Homo sapiens: one gene and its partners. The protein of the gene in region 2 interacts with the protein of the main gene of each other region in a biochemical or structural test. Each region holds a gene or a part of one and is shown on either strand. Other genes may lie near its edges.

Region 1 (6,518 bases), on a different chromosome or scaffold from region 2:
AAAGTCAACTATCTGTGTATTTATAATTATTTTAGTATCTTGTGTGAATGACTTAATAGATATAAATACTCCTAGTACAATGCCTAGCAATAAAGAACAAGGATTTGTTATTGTGCCCAAAGAAATATAGATATATACTTATTTTCAAATGTTTATTACGAATGACCTACTAGTAATAATATTCTGGCGCAAGATTTCAAAGCTTTAAATGTATATCTCCAAGTTCCAGAAGAGTAAAGCTGAGGTTTAATGTTCAAGGTTACACAAATCTGGGCAGAGCTGGAATTCAAGCCCAGGTTTTTTTTTTTTCTTGTTCTTCTCTAAATCTCTTACTTTTCACTACTACACTGTCTTTTCTTCAGATGTGTTTATATTTAAAGAAGGCATTAAGAACCTATAATTATGAAAAGTTGGTCCCACTTGGAAGAAGCTCAAGGATGAAAAATTAAGTTTACATCCTAACTAGAGAGATTGGGAATGATTTAATGATTAGGAAAATGATAGGTATGCATATATGAGGGTAATTTTCCATATTTCCCTGTATGTGTGTATCTTTAATTCATAAAAATTAAAATTTAGGTTAACTTAACGAAGCACTTCACTTTAGTGAAGGTTAACCCTTCATCTCATACACCGAAGTTTTTGGTCAATCATTTTTACTTCATGATTTAAAAGAAAAAAAAGACAGATACTGGATTTGATAAGTACAATTCTGCATACAGATACCAATGATACATAAGATTCAGGACTAAATGGTTATTAAGGCCCCTTTAATTTTAATAGAGACAGTAACAGTAGCTCCCGTCTATGCAGCAATGGTTATTTCACAGATACCGGGCAAAAGACTCTCTACATAACTTAATCCCTGAAACAAACCTCTAAGTAAATATTACTTTACTCTGCCTTTTTCTATGAATGAGAAAGCTAGTACTCAAAAAAGCTAAATCACTTTCCCAGAGTCACTCAGTTAGGAAATGGTGGAGTTGGGATTATTCAATGGTTCAGTCTCTCATTTCTTCATCTTTTAAAGTACTCTAAGGAAACAATAAAAAATCACATGGGAGGATAACACATTGACATGGTCAATCACAGGAAAAATAAACCTGTAGTACTCTAACTTGGTTATTTCTATATATGTAGGGTTTTAAAAATTACAACTATTGATCTGCTTTGAGAATATCATTCCTATTATAACTGTATAGTTCTAATATCCACCCAATACATAAATTTTCTATCTTTATAGGTTGGAAATTTAAAAATATATACATGGAAAAACATACAGTACAAACCAACCAAATTCAAATAAAAATCTTTAAAAACTCTTAGAAATTCTTTAAGCAGGTTATGTCAATCCTATTAAAAATGATTATTCTATGTACAATACATAATCTTTAAAAATACAGCTCCAGGAAACAAAAACTCTTTGGTTCAGCAAAAGGATTATAAATGTGGAAATCTAATTTGTTAAGGATGCACCTTTCTGGATTGGGCTTCACTTATCTAGCTTAACTCATTAAGGAAGCATATAGCTGGCTTTTTTCTGGATGATGAAATTATGAGTGGGGACTGGGTAGAGGTTCCTTTTGACATAGAACATTAACATATGAAAATATAACCAGAAGCTTGAATAATCCCGGAACTTATACAGTATTTTTACTCTGCTAGATTTAAAAAATACAGAAAAGTCTCTGCTTCTCATTCATTTTGGAAGGAGGGTAAGGGAATGATCATGGTCAATACATACAACCATTCACCAGTGAAGTTCTTAGGTACTAGGTCCCATGCTATTGAAACTATCCTACTTATTATTTGGGAGAGTGCAAGGAAGGGATAGGAGGGATGCTGTTGTCCCTTTTACTTCTGAAATCCTATCACTTTTCTGGTGGCTTGCCTGTCTTAACAATCTAAATTTATAAACACATCCATGACTCAGATGTCTTTAAAAAGCGCTATTAACTCAGCAGTGACTACAGTGCATCAACATTTGTCAATGGGATTTATATTAAAAATTAACGATGATTCTATACAATTTTGGTTTATTAATAGCAACTATCACAGAATTTTTCAAAATACCTCAGATTTTCAAAGAGTCAGCAGTCTTACCTACTAGAATATATTTTCCTTTCTATTTACTGGGAGGCAAAAGCCTTCGCAATTTTGTTCCAGCACGTTTTCTACTCTGGTTGTGAAAATATTTTAGCATCATTTAACCACACATTGTAACTATCTTTAACAAGGACTTTCGAAAAGTCTCTAAGGTATCACTGATCATAAAGGAGAGAAAATATTTCTTGCTTTACTTTTTTTTCTAAGTTCCCCAATAGAAAATAATTACCTGACTGGATTGATTGATTCAGTTACTTTAGGAAATGGTGCCACTGACTATTGCTCAATCTTGCCTCTCCCTGGACTCATGTCAGAGGCGTATTAATATATTTTCAGGTTAAAAGCAGGTGAAAGTCAGGAGGTTCTGTTGGCTACCATGGTTTCTGCAAACCACCATTTTAAGATACCACCATGCTTATATGAAGTTGCTGAGAGCTGGGGAGCTCTCCAAAATTCACCATTGTTTTTCCTTCTATTTGTATGACTTAGTTATTCAAGGGCAAGACCCTTTTTAAACGTTAGTAGTACTCAAACGAGAAGGATATGATTGGAATGGAACAATAGATTGCAGAAAAAACTGCCACTTTAACAAAAATGGCTCTGATTGTGGAAAGGAAAATGGGGTAGCCTCTAGCAGTTGAGAAAAGCAAATAATGTAATACATCAATAATTCACAGCATCTAAATAAGACACTATAACTCAGAACCATATCCACACCATTCTCCTCTTCCCATTGTGCAGGAATTTCTTTTCCCTAATGGTCTTCCAAAGATATTATAATACTCTGAAAAGAAAATAATGTGTTGGATTATTGATCCTTGAGGTCCTCTTCTGTAGAGTACAGGCAGTAATCAACTTTTCTTCTGTCAGAAGTCTTTATCCCAGCCTGATAGCTCATCTGGAGGCATTCCCTTTTCAGGAGGATATTTGTCAAAGTAGCTGTGATCTATGGGTCCCTTGAGCTAATATAGAAATAATTAAAACAAAAGGAAGAATAATGTTGACCAAGCATGCTATCACATATGGGTAATGTTTTTTATTTCAGAACACTGATTTCATACTGCAGCCACTTGGAAGTTACATACAAGAAAAAAATGACCAATTATCATTCTTGAGTCCTAGTCTCAGCCTCATGAGATCTTCTCTTTACAACCAAATAGATTTGGTCACCAGATAACATTCAATAGTAACTACCTGGCATGAAGAGTTTTCCTAAAGAAAAAGTTCAGAAATAGGCCAGGCGCTGTGGCTCACGCCTGTAATCCCAGCACTTTGGGAGGCCAAGACAAGCAGATCACCTGAAGTCAGGAGTTCGAGACCAGCCTGGCCAATGTGGTGAAACTCCATCTCTATTAAAAATACAAAAATTAGTTTGGCATGGTGGCACACACCTGTGATCCCATCTACTTTGGAGGCTGAGGCAGGAGAATCACTTGAACCTGAGAGGTGAAGGTTGCAGTGAGCTGAGATCACACCACTGCACTCCAGCCTGGGTAACAGAGTGAGACTTTCTCTCAAAAAAAAAAAATAAGTGACAGAAATGATGTCTATTTATTTTTTTAATTGAAAACTCTTTTAAAATCAAAATCTGCTAGCGTTCTTCTTCCATTATATAAGTTTCTCACCAATCCTGAAATTTTTATGGTTAATTGATCCATATAAAGTATTCAGAATGCCAAAAAAGGAACAATTCAAAATATTAGTGACCCTGTTGAGAGAGTGAAATTATGCTGGTATTAAATTATTTCACAAATAAAATGATTTCTAACTCTGCTTTCAAACAAATGTAAGTAATGCCTAACTGAATGATCAGCTGAAAAATCATTAAAAATATTATTTATGATAGATCATAATGTGGTGGAGGAACAGAGCTAGAGATCATTCAGAAGGAGCTCAAAGTGACATCGCTGTAATAAAACCTTCCATTCCCACTTATATATGTGAGAACACAATTCTTAGAATTTGTATCTGCATAACAATCATTTTAAAAAGGAATAGAATTGATGCTGAATCTGATCCCATTCTTCTAATAAATAATATCTATCCATAGATACATGAAATAATTTCTTCTCAAAAAATGTTTATTTAATAATTACCATTAGATATTCATAATATATTTATGCCATTTGACACTGCATGCCATAAAAATGTAATTATAACAGAATTCAGAAGAAATACTGGTGTTATCACAAATTTTAAATCTAAAATTCGAAGGCATTTAAAGAATGATCAAGAAAGATTGTCAAGCATAGAAGCATTTTACATTAGGATGAAATCTTATAGGGAACATAGAATGAAAATATGATGATATGATGAAAAGGAGTGATACAATATTTCTGCCCAAACTTTATAAGTGGCAGATAGGTATTAAATCTCAATGGTATTTAGATTATAGTAGACATGTTTAAAGGAATGAAGTAACAGTAGTGTTTTTATTATTATTATTATTATTATTTTTTGAGACGGAGTCTTGCTCTGTCATCCAGGCTGGAGTGCAGTGGCGTGATCTCGGCTCACTGCAAGCTCCACCTCCTGAGTTCACGCCATTCTCCTGCCTCAGCCTCCTGAGTAGCTGGGATGACAGGTGCCCGCCACCATGCCCGGCTAATTTTTTTTTATTTTTAGTAGAGACAGGGTTTCACCATGTTAGCCAGGATGGTCTCGATCTCCTGACCTCGTGATCCGCCCGCCTCGGCCTCCTAAAGTGCTAGGATTACAGGCGTGAGCCACCATGCCTGGCCTAGTGTTTTATTTTAAAATGTCAATATTTACAACATACTGGAAATCATATTCTCCACAACTACACTTTGATGAAAAAAAGTCAGATAGCAATCTACCAATGTATAAGAGGAAATATAGATCTTTGCAATCTTTTGGAAAAAACACTAACATAAACTTAGTAGTATGTTGACCTAGATCATTCCTGAGTCATTCTTCCTCCCATGTTAGCTGAAGTTCTGCTGCCTCTAGAGCTGCACTATCCAATAACAAAACCATTAGCAACACGAAGTGACTGAGCACTTGAAATGTCGCTCTTCTGAACTGAGATGTGCTGTAACAGTAAAATTCACTTGGGATTTAGAAAATTTATTATGGAAAAATAAACATAACCTATCTCACTAATATTTTATATTGATTACATATTGAAATAATATTTTGGAGGTATTATGATAATTAAAATTATTTTCACCTTTTTTTTCACCTTTTTAAAATGGCTATTAGAAAATCTTAAGTTACATACATTGTTCACATCAAATTTATACAGTCATTTGTCAGCCTGAACAACACTGACTACTTTGGGACTTAAGTGGCACTGACATGTATTTGGTTCTTGACAGGTAAGTTAATATCCATCAGCTAGGCAGTACTATTTAGTCCCTATAATCACAATTATAAGACAAACTCACTTAAATTAAAATAAAAACTGCTTTAAAAAAAAACACCCAAAATCTGTTATGGGCATATACATACACACATCTAAAATCTGTGTACAAAAACAAATCCCTGGGAAAAAAATAAAAAAGTAATATAATAAATACAATACCTCTCTTTGCAAAGGTGATGGAAGGCTCCGTGCTTTCAGTCCCTCCCAATTAAAACCATTTAACCACCTGAGAAATGAGAAAGGAAGGAAGGAAGGAAGGAAGGAAGGAAGGAAGGAAGGAAGGAAGGGAGAAAGAAAGAGACGACAAAAAGGAATATTACTTGGATGATAAACTATTAGCATGTCAAGTTATCTGTCATGGCTTTAAATAGCACTTATATGCTAATTATTCCCAAATTTCTATTTCCAACCAAGACCCCTCCATCAGCTTACAGGCTAAGGTCTACAATTCTTATTCATCTTCTCACTATTAGATGTCTAATAGGCATCTGGCATGTATCATGTCTGAACAGAAGCTTAAAATGTTCTCCACCAACCTCATCTCAATTCTTCCAGTTGCTCAAACCAAAGCTCTTGTAGTTGTTCTTTGCCTTATATCCTATCTGAGTCCATGATCAAATCCTGTCAGTGCTAGCTTCACATTCTATCTATATTCAGTATCTGGCCAGTCTTCAATACCTTCACTCTACTAGCAAGGAACCAGCCGTACTTTTGTGCTGGAGATAACTTAGCAGCAAGACTGGTCGTTTATAGCATAAGTCAGGTCACAACATGCCTCGGTTCAATACTTCCCCACCTTTTCCATCTTACTCAGTGTAAAAGGCAAAGTCTGTTCCATGTCTTTGCTGTAACCTATAAGGCTTTATAGAATCATTGTTTCTACCACCATCCTTCCATTACCTTACCACTGTATTACTTTTCTCTTTCTTTCTCCCTTAACTCATTTATCTTCTCACTATTCTCCTAACCAACTAGGGTTGTTCCCACTTTAAGGCCTTTGTACTCAAGGCTGGATTGTTCTTTCTCT
Region 2 (8,129 bases):
CCACGACCCATGTCCTCCAGGGCCAGGTGAGCCCTGATTGGCCAGGGCCTCTAGGGTAGGGGAAGGGCTCTGAGAGGACCTCAGTGGCCCTTGGGGACACAGCTGCAACCATGGAGTACCGAGTCCATCAGAAAAGAAATCTGGGGTCCCACGGCAATTAGTGGCAGGCTATGAAAATGGCCCATGGCTAAAGGAGAAAATGTTAGGAGGATAAATGTGAGGCTCTATAATTAGGTACAAATCAACAGTGTCATTCCTGGGGGAAGGAAAGAACATTCACGAAGGAAAACAAATGGCACACGGGGCATCACCCGGGGGATCTGCTGGCCTTGGCCGCTGAAGTCAAGGGAGCCAGTGCGTGATGTGGCCACCAAAAAAAAAAAAAAAAATGCAGAGGCCAGGCACGGTGGCTCATGCCTGTAATCCCAGCACTTTGGGAGGCCGAGACAGGTGGATCACCTGAGGTCAGGAGTTCAAGATCAGCTGGCCAACATGGTGAAACCCCGTATCTACTAAAATACAAAAATTAGCCGGGTGTGGTGGGTGCTTGTAATCCCAGCTACTCGGGAGGCTGAGGCAGGAGAATCGTTTGAACCCGGGAGACGGAGGCTGCAGTGAGCCGAGATTGCGCCACTGCACTCCAGGCTGGGTGACTAGAGTAAAATTCTGTCTCAAAAAAAAAAAAAAAAAAAAAAGAAAAGAAAAAGGAAAAGAAAAATATTGAAAGAGAATAGAGGAGGTCCTCTGATGAGGCACAGCTGTGAAGGTGAGACGGCAGATGACCAGTTTGGGAAAAGCTGAACTTGTGGGTTAGATTTTTGCTACCAACTAGCTTGAGAAGGTCAGCAGGGCACCTGCTAGACTCAGTAAAAGGAGGCCAGTGTGGGGAGGGCAGCAGGGCAGGCACCGCCCCCCCCCACCCCACACCGCCTGCCCGCCAAATGCCAGATGCCGCAGAAGCTAAATCAGTGTTTCCAGGAAGCAGTCTCTGCAGACAAGTCCCGGGAACCACACAGCCTCTCCATTGCTCCTGACCCAGTAACTGTTCTGCTGGGAACGCACTTCAAGGAAATAATCTAAAGGGCAAAACCATGACTTGAGCAAGCACTCGGAGCTGGGTCATTTAACACAGCAAAAGGGCAAAAATAACAAGCAGGGGATAACCACAGAAACCTGGATGGGGCATGTGGGGAGCAACACCCCTGCCCTGGCAGTGCCACGTCTGGGTGGGTGCCCAGCCAGGACCTGGGAGCAGCTGCCTCACGGTGGGCTGAGTGGAGATGGCACCCGATCAGCAGGACCCAAAGTTTAGTCCCCCTGTCTCCAGACGGCCCCTTAGAATCCCAGTCTCCAAAACCCTTCCAAAGCTTCCTCCTGCCACGAGGGGCGAGACCTTGGGCCGGGCACCTGCTGACCACAGAGCCTCACCCACCAGTGACATTATCAACCTGTGTGCAGCTGCCAGAGCCCTCAGTGCCACAGGACGACTCTAGGCCCTTGTAGAGGCACTTCCTCTCCCTCCCCCCGGAAGGCTTTCGCCACACGGACAGCCCAGGTGGGGAGACCTCTGCCTCATTCCCCACAATCAGAAGACGCTGGATGAGACCAGACACAAGGCCCAGCTAGGCCTGGTGCAAGCCACAGAGCACACTCGGAGGAACGGCTCAGCGAGGTGAGGATACCAACAGCTGATGTGCGACGCAGGCCCTCATAGAGCAGGCCGCAGGGTGAAGGCACCTTGGATCCAGGGGTTAGCCCTCAAGGGCTGCCATTGTCAGCCAGGGAGCCCAGCAACCAGGGCAGACCACTAGGCCAAAGTGTAGCTGGGCACAGAAGGCTCAGCTGAGAAACAAGGGACTCCGGCTTCCTCCAGCTGTCCCTAAATGGGCAATGGCTGCCTGATCTACCTAGGCCTTATGTGATGCTCCTAGAGCCCCCTCAGTCCCTCGGGCGGGGAAGACCCTCCAGCAGGCTGGCTGGGGCCCCGGCCATCAGTGCGCACGTGTTGGAAGAAGTTGGTCCAACAACCCAAAGTCCCAGATGCTGGCCACAAGCCCCCTAAGACACGCTTCCTAAGTGGTAAGGCCTACAGGTGGCCTGGGCTCAATCGGGTTCCAACACTTATAAACTGTGTCTTTGTCACTCTGGGCCTCAGTTTCCCAACGTGTAAAAAGAGAGGCTGGTTAGTATCAACCTCAAAGGGCTGCAGTGAGGATTTTAGTTAATTCGGGTAAAGTGCTCAGAAAAGTGCAAGTACTGGCTTAGCACTGTTGAGAGTTCTGAGTGAAGAGATGGAATTCTTGCTGCACACACGGGTGCCTTTCCACTCAATCCCAGCTTTGCACCCCAATCCAAGGCTCCCACCACCACACACCTCACCCCCAGGCCCTCATCTCGGCCCAGCCCCCATTGCCTGCCCCGCCTCTCCCGGGCCCCACCCCCAAACACGCTGCCCCAATCAGGACAAGCCTCGTGAGAGCCCCGCCTCCGTTTGCCCAGGCCCAACCCACCTATTGGTCACGCCCATCACGCCTTAGCCCCGCCCCTAAAAACCCCGCCCCCATCCCGAATCACGCTTTCAGCCCAGCCCGGCCCGCCAAATCTTGGGAAAGCTCCACCCCCTGCGGAGGCCCCGCCCTAACAGCCTCTCCCACCGCTCCGGGCCCCACCCCCTCTAGGCTCTGGCCCCGCCCCGGCGCGTCCTAGGTCCCCCAGGTCTCTCCGGGCCTCCGGCTCCGTATAGCCGCGCATCCTAGCCCGAAGCTGATGCTGCCCGGTCGGCTCCGGCCTTCCCGGCTGCCTGACCCGCCGGGCCCCAAGCCCCGGGCTCCGGCCTGGGCCCAGCGGCCTGGAGCGCGGCCTTGGCCCGTCTGCCCGCCGCCTCGCCGCCACGACTTCGCCCGTCTGTGCCCCACCGGCCGCACCTTTGAATAGGTAGTCGTACTCGTCGTCCCGGGTCCCCATTGTCCTGGCGCTTCCGGCGGGATCGGCGACTCCGCAGCCCCACCACAAACACCCGACGGGGGCGGAGCCGGCGCCGCGCAGAGCGGCGGTTGAATGGCCTATCAGCGGCGAGTGGAGTAGCGACGGGCACCCAGCGAAGCCAATCAGAGATGGAAGTAGTGCTCTGAGGGTGGGCGCCGCTTGGTACCACCCTCCTCGCCCTCGGTGTCCTGGAGAAAGGCGGAAGGAATGCGGACCTTTTTGAAGTGACGGACGCGCCAGCCTATCAGGGGCGAGCTCAAGAGGGCGGGGCGGAAGACTGCAGGAATGAAATGGATTGACAGACCAAATAACTAATGAGAGGCTTGATTGAGAACCTACCCGACTATCAGAGGACCTGTCCGGGAAGAGAAATGGGGCTACGTCCAGGTAATGCTACGATGCTTAACGTCCCGATGACGTCATAGGTCAGCGCGCGCTGCCCTGGTCGCCCCCCAAGCCCATAAATGACCATTTCCGGGGACCTCAGCGCTGGGTCCCCTTTCTCGGTTGCAGTCTCCATCTCTATATTGGGACTCACTGGGTTATCCTTCTGTGCCTCAGTTTCCTCCTCTGTAAACTGAAGAAACCCGTCTCATGGAATCTTTTGAAAATAACCAGATCAGCCAGGCGCGGTGGCTCACGCCTGTAATTCCAGGACTTTGGGAGGCCGAGGCTGGCGGATCACGAGGTCAGGAGTTCGAGACCAGCCTGACCAACATGGTGAAACCCCGTTTCTACTAAAAATACAAAAATTAGTCGGGCGTGGTCGCTGGTGCCTGTAAACCCAGCTACTCAGGAGGTTGAGGCAGGAGAATCGCTTGAACCTGGGAGGTGGAGGTTGCAGTGAGCCGAGATTGCACCAAGTGTGAATCAACCGTCCACTTTCTGCTATTCTTTGTTAAATAAATACTTTTAAATCCTTACTGGATACCAATGCTCTCCAACAGGACCTCCTACCACTACCCCTCTTTTGTCCTATATTTTGCCACATAGGTAAAATATAAAAATAGGTAATATAGAAAATAAAACACATACTGCTGTATTGTCAGGTAGTGATAGGATTTATCACTACCTGACAATACAGTATGTGTTTGTTTTATATATTTAGGGTGTACAGCGTGTGTTTTGATACACATGTACCCAGTGAAATAATAATTATGACAGTTTTTTTTTTTTTTTTTGAGACGGAGTTTTGCTGTCGTTGCCCAGGCTGAAGTGCAATGGTGTGCTCTCGGCTCACTGCAGCCTCTGCCTCCCGGGTTCAAGCGATTCTCATGCCTCAGCCTCCCGAATAGCTGGGATTACAGGCATGCACCACCATGCTTGGCTAATTTTTTTGTATTTTTAGTAGAGACGGGGTTTCTCCATGTTGGTCAGGCTGATCTCGAACTCCTGACCTCAGGTGATTCGCCCACCTTGGCCTCCCAAAGTGCTGGGATTACAGGCATTTTCACCACACATGGCCAATTATGAGAGTTAAGCAATTAACCTATCCATTGCCTTCCATAATTAACTGTGTGTGTAGTGAGAGTATCTAAAATGTACTTTCTTGGCAAATTTTCAATATACTATGCAAAATTATTAACACAAAGTATACGTTACTTTTTGTTTGTTTGTTTTGGCTGGCTGCGGTGGCTTATGCCTAAAAACATGCCCTTTGAGGAGGCTGAGGTGGGAGGATCACTTGAGGCCAGGAGCTAGAGACCAGCCTAGGCAACATGTCAAAACCCAGTCTCTCAAAAAAAAAAAAAAAAAAAGAAAAAAAGGAAAAAAAAGAGAAAAGGAAAAAAAAGAAAAGAACAACAACAAAAATTAGCCAGATGTGGTGCATCATGCCAGGGTCCCAGATACTTGGGAGGCCAAGGCGGGAGGATCATTCGAGCCTGGGAAATCGAGGCTGCAGTGAGCCATGATCACCCCACTGCACTCCAGCTTGGGTAACAGAGCAAGACCCTGTCTCAAAAAAAAAAAAGCCTTGCTTTCCTGACCCATTGATCTGTTTGTTTTTTGTCCTCTGTCAGCAGCATATCAGCCTGATGACATCAGGGACTGTATCTGTCCCCATCATTGCTGTAAGTTCCCCACTGCTGAATAAATACGTTTATTTATTCAGTGGTGAATAATCTAAGCCTAGAGTCAATGTACTAGTTATTAGAGCAGATGCCATTATCGCCTCTTGGATCTCATTCCCAGGGTGTTCATTGGGCATCTGTCAAAAAAACAAAATTACAACACATTTAGTTTAAAGATCTTAATTGATTTTATTTGCAATTCTACAATCGGGCAACACTTCATTTCACAAAATGAAACTAATTTTCCCATGAGCTGAGCAGGTAGGTTGGTTTTACAGGCAGAAAAAGGGCCAAGTAAAGCACAAACAGAAAATAAAACGTGGAGGTCAGGTGCAGTGGCTCATGCCTGTAATCCCAGCACTTTGGAGGCCGAGGCAGGCAGATCACCCGAGGTCAGGAGTTCGAGACCAGCTTGACCAACATGATAATGATGATGAAACCCTATCTCTACTAACAATACAAAAATATTAGCCGGGCGCGGTGGCAGGTGCCTGTAATCCCAGCTACTCAGGAGGTTGAGGCAGGAGAATCACTTGAACCAGGGAGGCGGAGGTTGCAGTGAGCGAAGATCACACCATTGCACTCCAGCCTGGGAGAGCAGAGCAAAACTCCGACTCAAAAAAAAAGAAAAAAAGAAAAGAAAACTTGGATTGGTCATTTTAAAGTTTCCTTTTGGAGTCTGAGTCTTGCTCTGTCACCCAGGCTGGAGTGCAGTGGTGCGATCATAGCTCACTGCAACCTCAACTTCCTGGGATCAAGCAATCTTCCCACCTCAGCCTCCTGAGGAGCTAGGATCACAGGTGTGTGCCACCATGCCCAGCTAATTTTTTTTTTCCAGAGACAGGGTCTTGCCTTGTTGGCCAGGCTGGATTTGAACTCCTGAACTCAAGCAATCCTCCTGCCTTGGCCTCCCAAAGTGCTGGGATTACAGGCATGAGCCACCACCGCACTCAGCCCAAAGTTACTTTTCTTGTAAAGGTTAAAGCAGAGAGGACATCCTTATCATGATGGCTAAAACTGACCTGGTGGGAGACTTGGCTATCCCATCTCTCTCTCTCCTGATTTTGTAGAAGGTCAGATAAACAACTTAGTTTCTTTTTGATCACGTAAAACTTTAGCATGAGTGACTCCATTTTGGTTTAGTTTGTTGGGCCTGGTGTAGGAAGTCAGTCCAAAGTAATAGCCTCCTATAAGTTTTGTATAACACATCCTGTGTCCAGATTGGTGGGTTCTTGGTCTTGCTGACTCCAAGAATGAAGCCACAGACCCTCCGGTGAGTGTTACGGTTCTGAAAGATGGTGTGTCCAGAGTTTGTTCCTTCTGATATTCAGACATGTCTAGAGTTTCTTGCTTCTGGTGGGCTTTTGGTCTCGCTGACTTCAGGAGTGAAACTGCAGACCTTTGCGGTGAGTGTTACAGCTCATAAAGGCAGTGCGCACCCAAAGAGTGAGCAGCAGCAGGATTTACTGGGAAGAGTGAAAGAACAAAGTTTCCACAGCATGGAAGGGGACCCAAGCACGTTGCCGCTGCTGGCTGCGGTGTCCTGCTTTTATTCCCTTATTTGGCCCCACCTACATCCTGCTGATTGGTCCATTTTACAGAGAGCTGATTGGTCCACTTTACAGAGTGCTGATTGGTCCGTTTTACAGAGTGCTGATTGGTCCGTTTTGACAGAGTGCTGATTGGTGCATTTACAAACCTTTAGCTAGACACAGAGTGCTGATTGGTGCATTTACAATCCTTTAGCTAGACAGGAAAGTTCTCTAAGTCCCCTACGCGATTAGTTAGACACAGAGCGCTGATTGGTGCATTTACAAACCTTTAGCTAGACACAGAGCGCTGATTGGTGCATTTGCAATCCTTTAGCTAGACAGAAAAGTTCTCCAAGTCCCTACTCAACCAAGAAGCCCAGCCGGCTTCACCTCTCAATCACCCCTCTAAACAGAACACCCCAACTGCTGTTGGGAATTTGGCCGATGACCACTCTAGCTACTTCCTGCTGGAAGAAGGGGCCCTGCAATTGTAGTGTCCTCCAGAGGGGAACTCTTTAGGCCAGTGGAAGGGCCAGTGGGTCGGTCCAGGGGTCCTCAGTAGAAGTTGTTAGTTGAACTCATTTGGGGTTCCATTTTTAAGACCATCTGTAGCTTGATGGCCTCGATTCTAGAAGAAACAAATTTGACAAGAAGGTTAAAAATGCAGGGCCCAAAGGTGAGTAAGAGCAAGATGGCTGCCACAGGACCTAGGGGAGAAGCCATGTTGCCCAACTCCAGAGGTTGGTATTAGAGTTCGAAAGGCATTGTCTGATTTCAGAAGCCTTTTCCTGTAAATGCCAGGTGGCATCTCGTGCTATCCCTGACTGTTTAGTGTAAAAACAACACTCTTCCCCTAAGAAGGTGCAGAGTCCTCCTTTCTCAGCAGTGAGGAGGTCTAGGCCTCAGTGGTTTTGGAGAGTTGCTGCTGCCAAAGAGTATATTTGGGATTGTAGAGTAAGGATAGATTTTGTTATTTCTTACAAACTGTCTGAGAAATCCTTTGAAGGTGTATGGTAGTAGAATAATGAAGTGGATAAACTGGCTATTCCGGTTCCTGTAGCAGTAGCCATTCCTAACCCTATAAGTAGGGATATTAGTTGTATGGCCCTGCGCTGATAGACTTGAGCTTTGAGGGGCACAGATACGGTCTGATTTCCATAAGATTAGAAGTTAGGATAATACATGTTACACTGTTAACTTTTTTAGCAAACTTTACTTTTGTTGAAAACCTTGTAAGTTTGGGATTTCAATTATTCTTTGCTATTAGTAAGACCTTGTTCAGTCCATATTAACTTAGAATTGGTATAGATGGCTGCTTCCTGATTCTGTAAGTACTTTAAGATTTGGCTGAGTGGAAACAACTGGCATGTTTGAGCAGACCAATTATTAGGCAATTTTCCTAACTCTGCATCTACAAGAGTTTCCTTATCACTTACTGAATACCCATTGTGTCTTTTTCCCTTAATCGCCTGGGAGGAACCATCTATCATCCTGTCCTGAAGGGAGTTCCTCCTAGATCTGGTCAGACCTTTGTATGGTA
Region 3 (7,713 bases), on a different chromosome or scaffold from region 2:
AAAAAAAAAGGCCAGGCACGGTGGCTCACACCTGTAATCCCAGCACTTTAGGAGGCCGAGGTGGATGGATCATGAGGTCAAGAAATCAAGACCACCCTGGCCAACATGGTGAAGCCCTGTCTCTACTAAAAATACAAAAATTAGCCGGGCATGGTGGCACACACCTATAGTCCCAGCTACTCAGTAGGCTGAGGCAGGAGAATTGCTTGAACCCGGGAGGCGAGGGTGCAGTGAGCCGAGATCGCGCCACTGCACTCTAGCCTGGCAACAGAGTGAGACTCCATCTTACAAAACAAACAAACAAAAAACACACACACACACAAATTAAGAATCTCCAGGCATGAAAAAAAACACCATTAAAAGACTGAAAAGGCAAAATACAGACTGAAAAAAATAAAAATGCAATACATATATATCCTAGAAAGGACTCATATCCAGAATAAAGCATTATAAATGAGAGAAAAATAAGCATATCAACGAAAACTGGGCAAAAAGACTTAACAGGCACTTCACAAGAGGAAATATAAATGGTCAACAAAAGATACTCAACCTCAGTACCAGGAAAATGCAAAATGAAACCACACTGATATATTACTGTACCTCTACTAGACTAGCAAAAAAAATTTCAACTGACAAGCACCAGCAAGGATGTGGGGTAACCGGAACATTCCCTGCTAATTGGTAGAACCACTTTGGGAAAATGTTCAACAATTTCTAATACTAGAGTTTTATCACCCACGTACCTATAAAACCAACAATGCCACTCCTACGTACATACTCCAATCTAGTAATGTCCTATTTCTTGATCTTTGGTGGTTCACTTAGTAAAAATTCATTACCTGCGATGTTTTTTGTTTTTGTTTTTTTTGAAAGACGGTCTCACTCTGCCGCTCAGGCTGGAGTGCAGTGGCATGATCAAGGCTCACTGCAACTTCGACCTCCCCGGCTTTGGTGATCCTCCCACCTCAGCCTCCTGGGTAGCTCGGACTACCAGCGCACACAACCACACCCAGCTAATTTTTGTATTTTTAGTAGAAAATGGGGTTTTGCCACGTTGCCCTGGCTGGTCTCAAACTCCTGGGCTCAAGTGATCCACCTGCCTCTGCCTCCCAAAATGCTAGGATCACATGCGTGAGCCACCGCACCCAGACCACCTGCACATTTAGAATTGTGAACTTTTTCTCTATACTTCAATAACTTAGTTCTAAGATTTATTTGACACAAAGTTCTCGGAAATCGTAGTTATCATTTTAGAACAGAAAAAAGACCACCTGGGCCAGGTGCGCTGGCTCACGCCTGTAATCCCAGCACTTTCGAAGGCCGAGGCGGGCAGATCATTTGAGGTCAGGAGTTCGAGACCAGCCTGACCAACACGGTGAAACCCCGTTTCTACTAAAAATACAAAAAAAAAAAAATTAGCCGGGCGTGGTGATGTACGCCTGTAATCCCAGCTACTCGGGAGGCTGAGGCAGGAGAATATATCCAGCCTAGGCAACAGAGTGAGACTCAGCCTTAAAAAAAAAAAAAAAAAAAAAAAAGAAAAGAAAAGAAAAGAAAAAGAAGGCCGGGCACGGTGGCTCACGCCTGTAACCCCAACACTTTGGGAGGCTGAGGCGGGTGGAACACGAGGTCAAGAGATCAAGACCATCGTGGCCAACATGGTGAAACCTCATCTCTACTAAAAATACAAAAATTAGCTGGGAGTGGTGGCGCGCGCCTGTAGTCCCAGCTACTCGCGGGGCTGAGGCAGGAGAATTGCTTAAACGCAGGAGGTGGAGGTTGCAGTGAACCAACGTCGCCACTGCACTCCAGTCTGGCGACAGAGCGAGACTCCCTGTCAAAAAAAAAAAAAAAAAAGAAAAGAAAAGAAAAAGAAAAAGAGCTTCTGGTACACTGGTGAAATTCTACTAACAAAATTTTAAAACAAAAAAAGTTACTTACATCAGCTCAGAACAAAGATTAAAAACTACCAGCAGATCACTTTTCTTTAACTTCAGTAAGCACTGGAATTCATTCTTTCGGCAAAGAAAGGAGTTTATTATTCAACACTGTAACCCAAAGAAAAGATACCACTTCAAGAAAATACTTCTTTTCGAAAGCAGCTCTACCAGCAATAGATAGGAGGAAAGCGAGGAAACCATTCCAAAAGGCTTGGTTTAACTCTTGGGTGAAAGGATGCCAAATGAGATGATCTAAGAAGCCCCAAAGACAGACAGACAGACAGACACAGGGAAATCACAGCAACTCTTTTGAGTGGAAACACCAACACCACAATCCAACCTACCGGAAATCCTGAGGTTAATTTGAGGCTTGCCCCACTAGTCATAAGGTGATTCAGGAATGGCTACAAACTCTTCTCAAGTTCATTCTGGACCTGGCACATCTGTCTTGCCCATCAGCAGCCTGGAGACACGCCATGCGCAGAATCCCGGAGGCCAAGTAAAGACGCCAACTTTGCAAGTCAGGGGGGCGAGTGCTCTCGCCCCTCAGGTCCCCAAAGGGAACCGACTTCTGGCCTCGAGGGTGGGGTGCAGGGTCAGTGTCCTCCACGGGATTTACGAGGACGTGCCCCCGAAGCTGCTCCGTCCCTCCACCGCCCTGGGACGCCACAGTTAGACCCGCCGACGAGTTTCTTCCCCAGCGCCCACGAGAAGGAGGGCTGCGGGCGGCGGCGGCGGCGACAGGCGAGGAAGCGAGTGCAGGGAACTTAGGCCCTGGCGGGGCCAGGCGCGCCCGCCCCGCTCCCACAGCAAAACTTGCGGCGGCCCCCGCCCGCCGCGCCTCGGCCCAGCTGTGCGCCAGCGGAACACGGACTCACCGCCCGCCCGGCCTCCCGGCCCGCCCGGCCTGGCGCAGCGCCCCTCACCTTGGAAACGTTGAGTAGACTTCGCCGTAAACATTAACTTCCCATCCAGCCGGCAGCCGCGCCGCCGCGTCTCAGCGCCTCGGCCCCGCTCCTGGCTCCACGGGTCGCCCGTCCCGAGTTCCCAAAAGCACCACGCTCACTCAGAAGCTCAGGGCCGCCTCGCGACCCTCACCTACCCCTCCCGGCACCGCCGCTGTCGGAACTGCAGCCAGCCCCTTGCCAGCTGGCCAGCTGGTTCCTCCGGGGTCCGGCCCGGCCGCGTCAGGAGAGCCCAAGGCGCAGGCGCGGGAGGGCCTTAAAGAGACCCGGCAGCCTCTACCGCAGAATGGGTTGGAGCAGGTTAGGGGCCGGGCGGGCCGGCCGAGAAAAGGAGAAGGCGAAGGGATTGGACGGAGTGCAGAGGAGGCGGGGAAATCGCTCTCGCCCTCCGCCTCTCTTTCAAAGCACCAGCCTTCAGTCCTGCAAGTCGCCGACTTCCCCGGCCACTGGAACCGCCCCTTCCATGTTAAAACGGTAGAAGACACACCCCCTCGGGGGCCCGAAGCGACCCCGAGCTTAGGACTGCAGGCCTCGCGCTGCCGCACCGACGCGGAGCCTGACTTTCAGGGCCCTGGCACGCGGTGCTGACGCGCATGCTTCGGAAGGCAGCCCCGAGCTCCCCCAGAGGTGGCCTTAGGGCACTCGCAAAAACAATAATCAACGCGTAAATGACACTTGTAATTGTAATGTACTCTTACACGTGTCTTCGCATTGGGTTTATGCAGACTACTGCAGGGGGCAGAACATGGGCACGAATACGTAAGATTCAGCCGGGCAGCCCTCCAGCGTCAACGAAGACATTCTTAGAAGGAAAGTACTTTGTTTGGGACGGAAACAGCCTATTAATTTCTGGTCCAGGAAAAGCAGGCAAGAAAAAGTAAAAAGGCAATACAGATTACTTTCATTATATGTTTAGAAGTGACAGCCGGGCGCGGTGGCTCACACCTGTAATCCCAACACTTTGGGAGGCCGAGGCGGGCGGATTGCCTGAGGTCAGGAGTTGGAGACCAATCTGGCCAACATGGTGAAACCCCGTCTCTACTAAAAATACAAAAAAAAAAAATAGCCCGGCGTCGTGGCGTGCGCCTGTACTCCCAGCCAAGCTACTCTGGAGGCTGAGGCAGGGGAATTGCTTGAACCACGGAGGTGGAGGTTGCAGTGAGCCAAGATCGCGCCACTGCACTCCAGCCTGGGCGACAGAACGATACTCTGTCTCAAAAAAAAAAAGGGACAAAAATTATAATAATTAGCAGCACAAGAAACTCCGGAATTATTTGTCTAGAAATTAGTATCCCTATTTTTAAATTTAAATTTATAAGACAGAATTCGCAGATGGGTTTCCACTGAACTAAGCATTTCAGAAAAAAAAAAAAAAAAAAACCTTACTTTTTTTTCAACAAGATTAGGAAATACCAAGAAATAGGAAGTAAAGCCATGCCCTCCACCCAGCTAAAAACTTTGAAAACTTGAACTTTTATCTGAGGCATATGTTTGCATAACTTTAGGTTGTGCCATTATTTAAAGAAATTTCAATTAACAATTTTATTGCAACTCAATCCTTGTATAAGAAAACTAAGCTACATCCTTGATAATGTACCTCTCCCCTCTTATATTCCATCCGTCAGCAAATTCTATTGGTTTTTCCCTTACAAATGGTCCTTGAATCTGTCCTCTCCTATTTCCTCCATCACCACCCTAGTCTAGGCTACCTTCACCTGGGGAGTGGGGGTGGAGGGATTACTGACCTAGTCTTCTTGTGGTTTACCCATATTCCCTTTATCCCCTCTCTAATCTCAACACAACAGGCAGAGTGACTTTTTCAAAATAACAGTGTGACCCTGTCACTTCCCAGCCTAAACCACTTAAACACTTTCCCATTCTCTTAGAAAAAACCCTCCTAACTAACCAAGCCCTGAATGGCCAGGTGCCTTGCCCACCTCTCCACCTCTTCTCACTGCTCAGACCAATTCCACCCTGCTGTCTGTGCTCCAGCCACGCTAGCCTCTTTTATTCCCTATTTACCGGCTTCCTGGCCTCAACAGAGCTTTTACTCATGCTTTGCTCTGTGCCCAGAAAGTTCTCCCAGTCCTCATCCTTTGACAACGGCTCTAGTATCCACCTCTGAGAAGCATCTTCTGACCTCCCTATGGTGGTCTCTTACTCCTTTCACATCGCATGAAACTGTAATTGGGTAGTTATATTGGTGAATTTTTTACTATTAGCTCCTTAAGTCCAGGATTTGATTTTGTTTGTTTCATGGTTGTATTTTCATATTTGTTAAATATATATTTGTTCAGTAAATGAAAATTATAGATGCTAAAACTTAAACTAAATTTGGCATAAAGTCAGAGAAAGGTAAAATGTCACCATCTGACATTTGGAATCAGAATCTAAAAACTTCAGTTATGTTAAAACTGATTTTATATCATTTTAGCTGGGTTGTCACAAGATTCTTTGGGTAACCTTTAAAACAGTTCTCAAAGAGCCTTTTGTAAGCACCTGAATTAATAATGATAAGACATGGGATGGCCCACATAAAACTAATAACATTGATTGCTTCAAGAGAGGAAGACTGAGCCAAGCACGGTGGCTCACGCCTATAATCTAAACACTTTGGAAGGCTGAGGCCGGCGGATCATTTAAGATCAGGAGTTTAAGACTAGCCTGAGCAATATGGCAAAACCCTATCTTTACAAAAAAAAAATACAAAAAAAAATTTAGACAGGTGTGGTGGTAGGCACCTGTAGTCCTGCTACTTGGGAGCCTGAGGCAGGAGGATTGCTTGAGCCTGGAAGGGTGAGGCCGAAGTGAGCCATGATCGTGCCACTGCACTCCAGCCTGGGCGACAGAGAAAGATCTTGTCTCAAAAAAAAAAAAAAGAGAGAGAAAGAGAGAGGAAGACTGGGTGACTGGTGGGTACCAGTGGGAAGGAGATTTTTACTGCATGCCCAAAAGGTTTAAAATTGTACCTTTTTTATCTTAAAGTATGTGAATTATCTATGTGAAGATAAATGACACAAAGTATGTGAATTATCTATGTGAAGATAAATAAATGACACAAAAGAGTGTCATACTGTTCCATTTATTTGAAATTCTAGAAAAGAAAATTAATCTGTGGTGAAAAAAAATCATAACAGTGGTTCCCTGTGGCAGGGGATTGACTGGGATGGTACATGAGTGAAATTTCTGGGTGGTAAAAATGGTCTCTATCTTGATAGGGATGTGAGTTACATAGGTATATTCACTTATCAAAAAATATGCAGGTAACATTTCAGTGAATGTAAATTTTACCTTAAAAACTATAAAAAATAGTGGCCGGGCGTAGTGGCTCACACCTGTAATCCTAGCACTTTGGGAGGCCAAGGTGGGTGGATTGCCCGAGCGGAAGAGTTCAAGACCAGCCTGGACAACACAGTGAAACCCCATCTCTACTGAAATACAAAAAAAAAATTAGCCGGGCATGGTGGCGTGTGCCTGTAATCTCAGCTACTCGGGAGACTGAGACAGGAGAATCACTTGAACCCGGGGGGCGGAGGTTGCAGTGAGCCGAGATTGCACCATTGCACTCCAGCCTAGGTGACAGAGTGAGAGACTCCATCTCAAAAACAAAACAAAACAAAACAAAACAAAAAAAAAACTAGGCAGGACATGATGGCTCATGCCTGTAATCCCAGCACTTTGGGAGGCCGAGGTGGTGGATCACAAGGTCGGGAGTTCAAGACCAACCTGGCCAACATGGTGAAACCCCATCTCTACTAAAAATACAGAAATTAGCTGGGCGTGGTGGTGTGTGCCTGTAGTCCCAGCTGCTCGGGAGGCTGAGGCAGGAGAACTGCTTGAACCCAAGAGGTGGAGCTTGCAGTGAGCCGAGATCGCGCCACTGCTCTCCAGCCTGGGCAACAGAGCAAGACTCTGTCTCAACAGCAACAACAACAACAAAAAAAACCCCATAAAAATTAAATAAAATTTTAAAATCTAATAGCTAACACCTGGTTGAGCACTCAACATGTATGGGTATTGGCTAAGGCTGTATACATACACTATTTCGTTTAATCCTCATATTGTCCTCATGGGGTAGGTATTATTATCATAACCCCCTTGCATATGAAGAAGCTGAAATTTAATAAATACCAAATAACTTACCTCAATTTATACCCCTGGAAAGTGGTGGCAGAGTTTTTAACACAGTCAGTTGAATGCCAGAAGTGGTTAAACATTAGGCCCTGTAGCACTTCTCTGAAATTGTAATATTTTGGTTTATATACATTACTCATCTACTAGATCGAGAGCTTCACAATGATTGAAATCCTGTTTTGTCTTTTTGTTTGTTTGAGGTTTGTGGTTTCATTTTATTTTATTAATTTAAAAGACTGGGTCTCACTATGTTGCTCAGGCTGGACTTGGACTCCTGAATTCAAGCCATCCTCCTGCCTCAGCTTCTTCTTCTTTTTTTTTTCTCGCTCCGTCGCCCAGGCTGGAGTGCAGTGGCAAGATCTTGACTCACTGCAAGCTCTGCCTCCTGGGTTCACGCCATTCTCCTGCCTCAGCCTCCCGAGCAGCTGGGACTACAGGCGCCTGCCACCACACCTGGCTAATTTTTTGTATTTTTAGTAGAAACGGGGTTTCACCATGTTAGCCAGGACGGTCTCAATCTCCTGACCTTGTGATCCGCCCACCTCAGCCTCCCAAAGTGCTGAGATTACAGGCATGAACCACCGCGCCTGGCCTTCAGATAGTTTTATTTGCGGTAAATTCAGTGAGCAATTCAAAGTTTTCTATGTTCTGATACTGTACAGCCTTAGCATTGA

The links. The genes of interacting proteins can lie anywhere in the genome.
Region 1: the proteins of RAB11B (region 2) and PRKG2 are reported together in a solved structure, tested with the Homo sapiens proteins (one study listed by BioGRID).
Region 3: the proteins of RAB11B (region 2) and EVI5 interact in a biophysical measurement, tested with the Homo sapiens proteins (one study listed by IntAct).

What each region holds. Positions count from the first base shown.
Region 1 is NC_000004.12:81,086,736-81,093,253, forward strand, and holds the end of PRKG2 (cGMP-dependent protein kinase 2), read right to left. Parts: intron 5,718-6,518; coding exon 5,651-5,717; intron 3,069-5,650; coding exon 2,973-3,068; 3' UTR 640-2,972; downstream 1-639. UniProt on the Homo sapiens protein: Crucial regulator of intestinal secretion and bone growth. Phosphorylates and activates CFTR on the plasma membrane. Plays a key role in intestinal secretion by regulating cGMP-dependent translocation of CFTR in jejunum.
Region 2 is NC_000019.10:8,385,252-8,393,380, reverse strand, and holds the start of RAB11B (ras-related protein Rab-11B), read right to left. Parts: upstream 3,022-8,129; 5' UTR 2,965-3,021; coding exon 2,925-2,964; exon of another isoform or gene 2,690-2,924; intron 1-2,689. UniProt on the Homo sapiens protein: The small GTPases Rab are key regulators of intracellular membrane trafficking, from the formation of transport vesicles to their fusion with membranes.
Region 3 is NC_000001.11:92,781,970-92,789,682, forward strand, and holds the start of EVI5 (ecotropic viral integration site 5 protein homolog), read right to left. Parts: upstream 3,140-7,713; 5' UTR 2,867-3,139; exon of another isoform or gene 2,327-2,866; coding exon of another isoform or gene 2,285-2,326; intron 1-2,284. UniProt on the Homo sapiens protein: Functions as a regulator of cell cycle progression by stabilizing the FBXO5 protein and promoting cyclin-A accumulation during interphase. May play a role in cytokinesis.